Homo sapiens: one gene and its partners. The protein of the gene in region 3 interacts with the protein of the main gene of each other region in a pairwise test. Each region holds a gene or a part of one and is shown on either strand. Other genes may lie near its edges.

Evidence for each region.
Region 1: the proteins of ING5 (region 3) and GCSH interact in a two-hybrid assay, tested with the Homo sapiens proteins (one large-scale study listed by BioGRID and IntAct).
Region 2: the proteins of ING5 (region 3) and FAM118B interact in a two-hybrid assay, tested with the Homo sapiens proteins (one large-scale study listed by BioGRID and IntAct).

The regions. Positions count from the first base shown.
Region 1 is NC_000016.10:81,086,324-81,089,975, reverse strand, and holds part of GCSH (glycine cleavage system H protein, mitochondrial precursor), read left to right. Parts: intron 1-2,311; coding exon 2,312-2,375; intron 2,376-3,652. UniProt on the Homo sapiens protein: The glycine cleavage system catalyzes the degradation of glycine. The H protein (GCSH) shuttles the methylamine group of glycine from the P protein (GLDC) to the T protein (GCST).
Region 2 is NC_000011.10:126,249,646-126,253,297, reverse strand, and holds part of FAM118B (protein FAM118B), read right to left. Parts: intron 2,793-3,652; coding exon 2,565-2,792; intron 1-2,564. UniProt on the Homo sapiens protein: May play a role in Cajal bodies formation.
Region 3 is NC_000002.12:241,708,420-241,712,071, reverse strand, and holds part of ING5 (inhibitor of growth protein 5), read right to left. Parts: intron 2,857-3,652; coding exon 2,690-2,856; intron 696-2,689; coding exon 584-695; intron 95-583; coding exon 1-94. UniProt on the Homo sapiens protein: Component of the HBO1 complex, which specifically mediates acetylation of histone H3 at 'Lys-14' (H3K14ac) and, to a lower extent, acetylation of histone H4. Component of the MOZ/MORF complex which has a histone H3 acetyltransferase activity.

The DNA of each region.
Region 1 (3,652 bases), on a different chromosome or scaffold from region 3:
TATTCAAGAAGGAAATGTGTGTGTTTTGTACTGGGCAATTAAGGAAAGAGGAAAAAGAAGAGCAGGGTGTTGCCACCATTTTGTGGGTCCAGTGATACACACGTGACCAGGAGGACGGGAAGAAAGAAAACCTCAATAGGCACAGATGACACAAAGGGAAGGCTTTTATTCAGCCCATCTTTTCTCTGTAAATTCCCCTCAATTCCATATGGCGATACTGTTTAAGAGAAAATGAGAAGCCAAATCCTAGCGTGTTCAGTGATTTTCAACTGGATGTATGTATTGGGTGAGGCGGGGAAGGGGGGATGTTAACTGATGGGAATGCACTCGTGTCACTTAATGATGGAGCTATGTTCTGATAACTGCCTCCTCGGGGATTGCGTCCTTCTGTGAGCCTCCTAGGGTGCCCTTACACACACCTAGATGGTACAGCCTATTACACACCTTGGCTGTATGGTACAGCCTTTGCTCCTGGGCTACAAACCTGTACAGCATGTTACTGTACTGAATACTGTAGGCAATCGTAACACACTTGGCCTATCAAAACACAGAAAAGGTACAGTAAAAATATGGCATAGGTTGAGCATCTCTAATCCCTGAAATACTCCAAAAATCTGAAACTTTTTGAGCACCAACGTGACTCTTAAAGAAAATGCTCATTGGAGCGTTTTGGATTCCAGAATCTTGGATGAGGAGTGCTCATGTATTAAGTATAATGCGAGTATTCCAAAATCTGAAATCCAAAACACTTCTGCTCCCAAGCATTTTGGACAAGTGATACTAACTATATTATAATTTCATGGGACCACTGTCATATATGTGGTCTGTTGTTGACCAAAATGCCATTAGGCGGCACGTGACTGTACAAAATTCCTCAGACATGTAAGATGCTTGTGTGTTGATAATCACAATTATATCTTCCTTGGCATCTCTGTATACCTACTATGAGGCCCAGTGTTGGATAGTTTTTGAGATGTTGTGTAAGATGTCGTCCTTACCTCCTAGAGTTTATTTGTGAGGGGAATTACCTACATGAGAATGACTTGCAAACATTACATGATGGCATCGGAACGGTGGGGTTGTAATTCACTTACCTGATGGAGAGACCACTTCTTTCTGGAGTCAGGGACTTCAGGGAGTACAAGGTGTGAGGACTATGATTTGTAGAATCAGTGAGCAGGATTTCAGCAAATGCTTTGGGGGCAATGGTGTACATAAAACTACAGAGGTGGAAGAACACCAAATATGTTCATGCCCAGAAGAGCTAGCAGTGTTTGCCGGGCGCAGTGGCTCACACCTGTAATCCTAGCACTTTGGAAGGCCGAGGCAAGTTGATTATCTGAGGTCAAAAGTTCAAGACCAGCTGGCCAACATGGTGAAACTGCATCTCTAGCAAAAAATTTTAAAAAATTAACCAGGCATGGTGGTGGGCACCTGTAATCCCAGCTACTTGGGAGGCTGAGGCAGGAGAATCGCTTGAACCTGGGAGGCAGAGGTTGCAGTGAGCTGAGATCAGGCCACTGCACTCCAGCCTGGGCAACAAGAGAGAAACTCTGTCTCAAAACCAAATAAAACAAAGAGCTAGCAGTCTTGTGTGGGGCAGGAGGCTTGTGTTAGGTTGCTAAAGCCTGTGAGCCAGATCTGGCTGGCGGCTGGTCTCTTGCAGCTCCTGAGTTGAGAATAGTTTTTTAAAATCATTTTATTTTACTTAGTTTTGGAGAACAGGGTCTTGCTATATTGCCAAGGCAGGTCTCAAACTCCTGGGCTCAAGCTATCCTCCCACCTCTGCCTCCCTAAGAGCTGGGATTACAGGCATGAGCCACCGCACCCAGCCATTTATTTTTATTCTTGACATGGAGTCTTGCTCTGTCGCCAAGGCTGGAGTATACAGGTGCAATCTCAACTCACTGCAACCTCTGCCTCCCAGATTTAAGTGATTCTCCTGCCTCAGCCTCCTGAGTAGCTGGGATTGCAAGTGCCTGCCACCACACCCAGCTAATTTTTGTATTTTTATTAGAGACTGGGTTTCACCATGTCAACCAGGCTGGTCTCGAACTTCTGACCTCATGTGATAACACCCACTTTGGGCCTTTCAAAGTGCTGGGATTACAGGCGTGAACTACCACACCTGACTGAGAGTAGTTTTTACATGTTTAAAGGATTTTAAGGAAAACTCAAGAATGTAGCCCCTCCAGTATAAAATATATACTAAATCTTCATTATAGGGGATTCAGTGTTTGGCTTATTCTGTTTACTGGAGGGTTTAGTTATAACTTCTTAGAGATTTTTGGTTTTGTCTTGTTTTATTTAGGAAGCGTTGGGAGATGTTGTTTATTGTAGTCTCCCTGAAGTTGGGACAAAATTGAACAAACAAGGTGAGTGTTCTTAGGATCTTAGAATGATCCATGCCATGAATTTTGTTTACATTGAATAGTAATTTGTTTGTACCCTGGATTAATTAGAGTGCTTTTTTTTTTTTGGAGACAGTCTTGCTTTGTCACCCAGGCTGGAGTGCAGTGGCACCATCTCGGCCCACTGTAACCTCTGCCTCCTGGGTTAAAGCGATTCTTGTGTCTCAGGCACGTGCCACCACGCCCAGCTAATTTTTGTATTGTAGAGACAGAGTTTCCCCATGTTGGCAAGGCTGGTCTCGAACTCCTGACCTCGAGTGATCCGCCCGCCTTGGCCTCCCAAAATGCTGAGATTACAAGTGTGAGCCACCGTGCCCAGCCAATTAGAGTGCTTTTGACCCAAGTATTAGGTTGGTGTAAAAGTAATTGCTACTCAGAGGCTGAGACAGGAGAATTGCTGGAACTTGGGAGGCGGAGGTTGCAGTGAGCCGAGATCCCATCACTGTACTCCAGCCTGGGCAACAGAGCAAGACTCCGTTTTAAAAAAAAGAGAGAAAAAAAGTCTATTAATATCGATATGTTAGATAATATCCTTAAACTAATGAATACCCTTTTAAGACATTCTGCTAAAGGTAGTTTTTTAACTTGATGTAAAATCTACATACAGTGAAATGCATGGACCAGAAGTGTACAATTCAGTGAGTTTTAACAAATGTATACACTTAAATAAACCTTCCTAGTCAAATAGATGACCTCTTCTCTCGTTTCTACACCATAGGTTTATTTTGCCTATTCTTTATATGAAAGGAATCACACAGTGTGTGTTACGTTTGGCTGCTTTTGGGATTTACCAAGCTTCTTGAATCTGTAGATTGAATTTTTTTTCGATTAAATTTGGAGACTTCTTATTTTAGTCATGATTTCTTTCTCTTCCCACTTCATTCCTTTTTCCTTCTCTGATTTGAGACATGTTCGTCATATCACTTGATATTGTCCTATAGGGTCCCTAAGACTGTTAACTTTTCAGCCTTTTTTAAACTGTTCTTTTTTTTTTCTTCTTATTTTTTTGAGACGGAGTCTTGCTCTGTTGCCCAGGCTGGAATGCGATGGTGCGACATTGGCTCACTGCAACCTCCGCCTCCTAGGTTCAAGCAATTCTCCTTTTTCAGCCACCCAAGTAGCTGGGAGTACAGGCATGCACAACCACACCAGGCTAATTTTTTAAATTAATTAATTTATTTATTTCGAGGTTTTGGTAGAGGCGGGGTTTCACCATGTTGGCCAGGCTGGTCTTGAACTCG
Region 2 (3,652 bases), on a different chromosome or scaffold from region 3:
CCCCATTCTGACTACCAGTCAATGTCTTTAACCATTAGACTGCAACACTGCCCCTAATGTGGGCTGAAAATACAATGCAAATCTTGAGGCCCAAGGATGAAATGAGAAGGAAAACATCAAATGTGATAGATATCCTCAGCTTTTAAAAGGTCCTTATGCTTCTGATATCCATGAACACACTTGGTCATAATCTTTGGAAATTTTATCACAAATAGCATAGAAGCTGCTAGTTTTAAAATTTCAATCATTTGTTTGTTTGTTTTTAGACAGAGTCTTGGTCTGTTGCCCAGATTGGAGCACAGTGGCGCAATCTTGGCTCACTGAAACCTCTGCCTCCTGGGTTCAAATGATTCTCCTGCCTCAGCCTCCCAAGTAACTGGGATTACAGGCGTGCACCACCACTCCCAGCTAGTTTTTGTATTCTTAGTAAAGACGGGGTTTCACCATGTTGGACAGGCTGGTCTCAAAATCCTGACCTCAAGTGATCCACCCACCTCGGCCACCCAAAATGCTGGGATTACAGACGTGAACCACTGTGCCCAGCCTATTTATTTAGAGACATGATCTTATGCTGTCACCCAGGCTGGAGTGCAACAGTGTGATCACAACTCACTGTAGCCTCGACTGCCTCAGCTCAATCGATCGTCCTGCTTCAGCCTCCCAAGTAGCTGGGACCACAGGCAAACACCACCATGCCCGGCTAATTTTTAAACTTTTTGTAGAGATGGGGTCTTGCTATGATGCCCAGGTTGGTCTTGAACTAGGCTCAAGTGATCCTCCCGCCTCAGCTTCCCAAAGTGCTGGGGTTACAGGCCTGAGCTGCTGTGCCCAGCCCAATCATTTATTAATCAAAAAAATATTTACCAAGCACCTAACTGTCATATTTGAGACATGAGGGTTGTATTTGAGTTATGAGGGTAAGAAAGACTAACATGATACCTATCCAAGTGAAGTTACTATTCCTATGGGGTAAACAGTCAGAAAACAGATAAACAGCCAAGATAAAAACTGTGCTGGGTGTGGTGGCTCATGCCTGTAATCCCAGCACTTTGGGAGGCTAAGGTGGGCAGATCACCTGAGGTCAGGAGTTCGAGACCAGCCTGGCCAACATGGTGAAACCCTGTCTCTACTGAAAATACAAAAATTAGCCAGACGTGATGGCGGGTGCCTGTAATCCCAGCTATTCGGGACGCTGAGGCAGGAGAATCGCTTGAACCCAGGAGGAGGAGGTTGCAGTGAGCTGAGATCATGCCATTGCACTTCAGCCTGGGCGACAAGAGCAAAACTCCATCTCAAAACAAAACAAAACAAAACAAAACAAAACGGCCAGGCACATGCCTGTAATCCCAGTACTTTGGGAGGCTGAGGTTAGCAGATCACCTGAGGTCAGGAGTTTGAGACTAGCCTGACCAACATGGAGAAACCCCGTCTCTACCAAAAATACAAAATTAGCCGGGCGTTGTGGCACATGCCTGTAATCCCAGCTACTCAGGAGGGTGAGGCAGGAGAATCACTTGAACCCAGGGCAACAAGAGCGAAACTGTCTCTCAAAAAAAAAAAAAAAAAGCTGCAAGTTAATACTAAGTGCTACAAAGGAAACGGACAAGAGACTGGATAAAAAAAATAAGTATCCAATTTAAATAGGATGGTCAGAGAAGGTCTCTCAGGAGGGGATCCCTAGGTTGAGAGTTATAAATGAAGAAGGAGCTGACCATACAGAATATGAGGGCGTAGGCGGAAGACACTTGGACCAGAGAAAACTAGTCTTCATGGGGCAGCTTTTCTCTAAATTCAATTCCCTTTAAATCCTGCCATCAAGGTCAGCAAAACCACAAGAGTGGTATTTCAGCTACCACTCTGGCAGGGGCAATACTGTAGTACTGAATGCCAGCAGGCAAATCACTTGTCTATTCAACTCTACTTAGTTGGGCTCTAAATTGGACATAAAGGCAGATTCCTGAGGAAAACAAAGTGTAGGAAAAAACATTACAAAAATCACAGAGTAGGACCAATGAGACTTTAAGAACTCATCTCATTAGCTGACACAGATCAACATCTATAATTCAATAATTATGGTAGGTACAGTATAGACTATGCTAAAACAAAGTCTGCTGAGGTTTCCACTAAACATTAACCTCAATTCAGCCATCGCTTGGCCTGGAAGTTGTTCTTCCAATCAGTATAAAGTAGTTTTCATACATTTCCAATAGATGCCATAAAAAAAGGTATCCTAAAATAGAACCAGCATTATCAATATTACACCACTGAATACTGTCAAGTGCTAAAGAGATCTTACAGTTCAAGTGACTTCCTCTAATCTTGCTTTAAAACTGGATGAAATTGTCAAGAGTCATAGAACTGAACACTTTTAAGTTCTATGCATTTTACTGTATATTGATTTGATCTTTAAAAAGAAAGAAAAAAGAAAAACAAAAACTCCAACCAGGGAAAAAATTTTTCCTTTCTAGCTCTACATAAATACCAATATACCAACTAGAAAAGAGCTTTTCTGAGGAAGATAAAATCCACTAGCCTGAAGAAGGGACCAATGCTTTACTTTTTACCTTTTTCTCATCAGTAAGGTCAAGGGATTCAAGCTGTTTCCCCTGATCTGCTGCATACAGTTCCAAGAGATTATCAAAATTTGTAGTTAATACGAGGGCTCCATTTTCCATCAGGTGGAGAACTGACTGAAGTAGCTGTTTTCCAGAATCTTCCATCTTTGACTCCAAGTCATCAAATACTTCATATAAACAGTCCTTGAAAAATGTGGATCGAACATTACTGGTACGCTGAGGAGGGATTTGAAAAAAGAAAATTAGTCCAAAGTGCTTTGGTAGGTCAGTTGTTTTAGTTACAGCAGTAACAAATTTTGGAAGAATATTTTGAATTCAAAACAGAGATAAAGGCCAGGCGCAGTGGCTCACGCCTGTAATCCCAGCACTTTGGGAGACCGAGGCGGGCGGATCACGAGGTCAGGAGATCGAGACCATCCTGGCTAACACGGTGAAACCCCGTCTCTACTAAAAATAAAAAAAATTAGCAGGGCGTGGTGACAGGCGCCTGTAGTCCCAGCTACTTGGGAGGCTGAGGCAGGAGAATGGTGTGAACCCAGGAGGCGGAGCTTGCAGTGAGCCGAGATCGCGTCACTGCACTCCAGCCTGGGCGACGGAGCGAGACTCCATCTCAAAAAAAAAAAAAAAAATCCCGGGGATAAAATATTATCTATCTCATACGAACGTAATAAGGAAGATGAGATGATACATGCCAAGTGCTTAGCACAATGCTTAGCAGATAGCAAGTGCTACTATACGTAAGCTTCCTAAAATAGGCATTTTTATAGAATGAAGAAAATAAACCTGGCCAAGGGATATGAATTTACTGTCGGTATTAAAGGGAAGCTGGGGTACAAAGCAGAGCGACAACTACCCTCTCATGAGGTGCCAGGTAAGAAGGCAACACTTTCCGTTCATCTTGCCTTATGTAGGGAAACGCCACTGAGACACAGCCCTAATTGTGGTTTGGCATCTCCTTTTCTTTTTCTTTTTTTTTTTTTTTTTTTTTTTGAGACGGAGTCTCATTCTGTCACCCAGGCTGGAGTGCAGTGGCGTGATCTCGGCTCACTGCAACCTCCGCCCCGCCAGGTTCAAGC
Region 3 (3,652 bases):
CCTCCTTTGTGCTTCTTTTTCTTTGGTGTGTCTTCCTCTGATGTCCTCCTGCCTCGGCCCCGGGACCCTCTTTTTTCTTTCTGACCCCGGCCTTCTGAAAAATAATCAAGATGCAAATTATTTTTATAGAATTCTCTAAAGCAAGGCAAGTTTTGTGTTTTGTTTTTAAAAAGGGGTCTCGCTCTGTCTCCCAGGCTGGCTGGAGTGCAGCGGAGCAATCATAGCTCACCGCAGCCTTGACCTCCCGGGCTCAAGCAATCCACCCACCTCAGCCTCCCGAGTAGCTGGGACCACAGGTGTGCACCACCACACCTGGCTAATTTTTAAATTTTTTGTTGAGATGAGGTCTCGCTATGTTGCCCAGGTTGGTCTCAAACTCCTAGCCTCAAGTGATCCTCCTGCCTCAGCCTCCCAAAGTGCTGGGGTTACAGGCGTAAGCCACCACACCCAGCCTGCAAGACAAGGTTTACCCAAATATGATACTTACCCTAGTGATCATACTTTAATGATTTACCGTGACAAAACTCTTCAAAACTCCATAGTTAACAGTAATAAAATAAAGAAAAAAAATTAACAGACTTGCTTTTTAACCCTCGCCCTCCGGAGCTTTCAAAATCACTGCCCTCCATCTTGTCCTTCAGATCTGCTTCAAAGCGCGCCAGGTCTGCATCAAGCCTTCGAATGTGTTTATCCACCTACAAAAGGATACCCAAAGTCTTATTTTAAAGTAAAACCAAAACACCTCAGAATCACGAATGTACAAAAGTATCCACCAGGAAACACCTTCTTGCCCTTTAATTGAGTCTCCAATGAACAAACCTCTGCTAAAACAAGGCCCACTATTTCAAAGTCCATGCAAGGGTCTTGTGCTTTTTCTGCATATTTTGACATTGCAATGGAATAAATCCCATTTAGGGAAAAGACATGAGTGTGGGCAATAATGAGAAGCAGAGTTGTGAAATGCAGTGAACAAGGCCTGGGATATCTGACGCTGAACCCTACTTTAAAATATGGCTACCTGGAGGCCAGGTGCAGCGGCTCACACCTGTAATCCCAGCACTTTGGGAGGTCGAGGCAGTCTGATCACCTGAGGTCAGGAGTTCAAAACCAGCCTGACCAACATGGTAAAATCCCATCTCTAAAATAAATACAAAAATTAGGGCAGGCGCGGTGGCTCACGCCTGTAGTCCCAGCACTCTGGGAGACCGAGGCAGGTGGATCATTTGAGGTCAGGAATTCAAGACCAGCCTGGCCAACATGGCAAAACCCCATCTCTATTAAAAATACAGGCCAGGCACGGTGGCTCATACCTGTAATCCCAGCACTTTGGGAGGCTGAGGCAGGTCAATCACCTGAGGTCGGGAGTTCAGGACCAGCCTGACCAACATGGAGCAACCCCATCTCTACCAAAAATACAAAATTAGCCGGGCTTGGTGGCGCATGCCTGTAATCCCAGCTACTCAGGAGGCTGAAGCCGGAGAATCGCTTGAACCCAGGAGGCAGAGGTTGCAGTGAGCCAAGATCGTGGCATTGCACTCCAGCCTGAGCAACAAGAGCGAAGCTCTGTCTCAAAAAAAAAAACCAAAAACCAAAAACAAAAATTAGCCTGTTGGTAGTGGTGCACACCTGTAATCCCAGCTACTTAGGAGGCTGAGGCAGGAGAATCGCTTGAGCCTGGGAAGTGGAGGTTGCACTGAACTGCAGCCATGCCACTGCACCCTAGTCTGGGCGACACAGTGAGGCCCTGTCTCAAAAACTAAATAAATAATACAAAAATAAAAAAATAAAACTACAAAAATTAGCCAGGCTTCGTGGTGGGTGACTGTAATCCTAGCTACTCAGGAGGCTGAGGCAGGAGAATTGCTTGAACCTGCGAGGCACAGGTTGCAGTGAGCCGAGATAGCACCATTGCACTCCAGCCTGGGCAACAAGAGCAAAAGTCCATCTCAAAAATAATAATAATAATAAAGTATGGCTACTGCATGCCTGTAATCTCAGCTACTCGGGAGACTGAGGCAGGAGAATCGCTTAAACCCAGGAGGTGGAGGTTGCAGTGAGCCGTGATCACACCACTGCACTCCAGCCTGGGCGACAGAGCAAGACTCTGTCTCAAAAATAAATAAATAAATAAAATAAATAAATAAAATAAAATATGGCCACCTGGAGGTCGGGCACGGTGGCTCATGCCTGTAATCTCAGTATTTTGGGAGGCTGAGGCGAGTGGATCACTTGAAGTCAGGAGTTCGAGACCAGCATGGCCAACAGGGTGAAACCCCGTCTCTTCTAAAAATATAAAAATTAGCTGGGTGTGGTGCTGCATGCCTGTAATCACAGCTACTAGGGAGGCTAAGGCACAAGAATCACTTGAGCCTAGGAGGCGGAGGTTGCACTGAGCTGAAATCACACCACTGTACTCCACCGTGGACGACAAAGTGAGACTGTCTCAAAAAAAACCCAAATGGTTCCTCCGAGCAGATACACAAACAAAAAGGGCCCAGAAAAAAAAAAAAAAAAAACAGGGATGGTCCTACATGAAGTGTATTCCGTCTGCACTTCCTCCAGCAGCGTCAGCTACCAAAGCCAGCCTTCCACTTGGCTATGCCCATTTCCGGGCAGTTTTTACATTTTGTTGCATGAGAGGCAGGAGTAGAGGTCAGAGGAAGAGCCATGGCCCCCGCCCCGCCCTCACCATCTCGTAGGTCTGCATGGCCAGCTGCACTTTGTCGTCACTGTATTCCTTGCACTTGCTGTAGGCGTTCTGGATCTTCTGCAGGCGCTCCACGCGCTGGTCTGGAGACAGCGTCTTCACCGTGGAGATGTACTCTGCAGCCAGGATGTCAATCTCTGCTTTCTTATCTGATGGAGAAATGGGGGAAAAGCTAGCCCTGCACAAGACACCATGATGTGCTCACCAGACTGGCAACAACTAAAGTCAGCCAACGCCAAGTTGTGGCAAAGATGTAGGCTGACATGAACTCACGCTGTGCTGGTGGGAGCGCAAGTGGGCAGAACCGTTCTGCACAAACAGTCTGGGATCGTGTGAATGTGCAGACTTTACGGCAACGTGCCCAGGACAGTCCCAGCTCTGAATGTTACACAGCAAGTGGTCACAGTGCCTTCTTCGACTCTCAAACATCCTGTATGAATAACTTGTAGCCACCTTTCCTATGACCTGGCATACTACTCTTTTTTCCCTTTTCTTTTTTTCCGGTAGAGCAGTCAAGAAAGAACACACTACTCTTAAATACCCTAAACAAACCTTATGTCACCTAAAGAAATCCACACGGGAAACATTCATAAGAGCAGAAAACAGAAAACAACCCCAATGTCCAATCCTCAGTAAAATGGAGAAATAAGCTGTGGTCCCTTCAGACAACAGAGTGCTACTCAGCAACAAAAAGAGCAAACTACAGCCACACACAGCAACACGGATGATTCCCAGAGAAGGTGACACGGAGCAAAAAGAGCAAGAAACAAAAGAAAACATACTGGATGATTCCATTAATATGAAGAGCAGAAACAGACACAACTCTTAACCCTTCAGTTTAGAGGGGTAAGAAAACTAGGCCAGGCGTGGTGGCTCACGCCTGTAATCCCAGCACTTTTGGAGGCCGAGGCGGGCAGATCACGAGGTCAGGAGATCGAGACCATC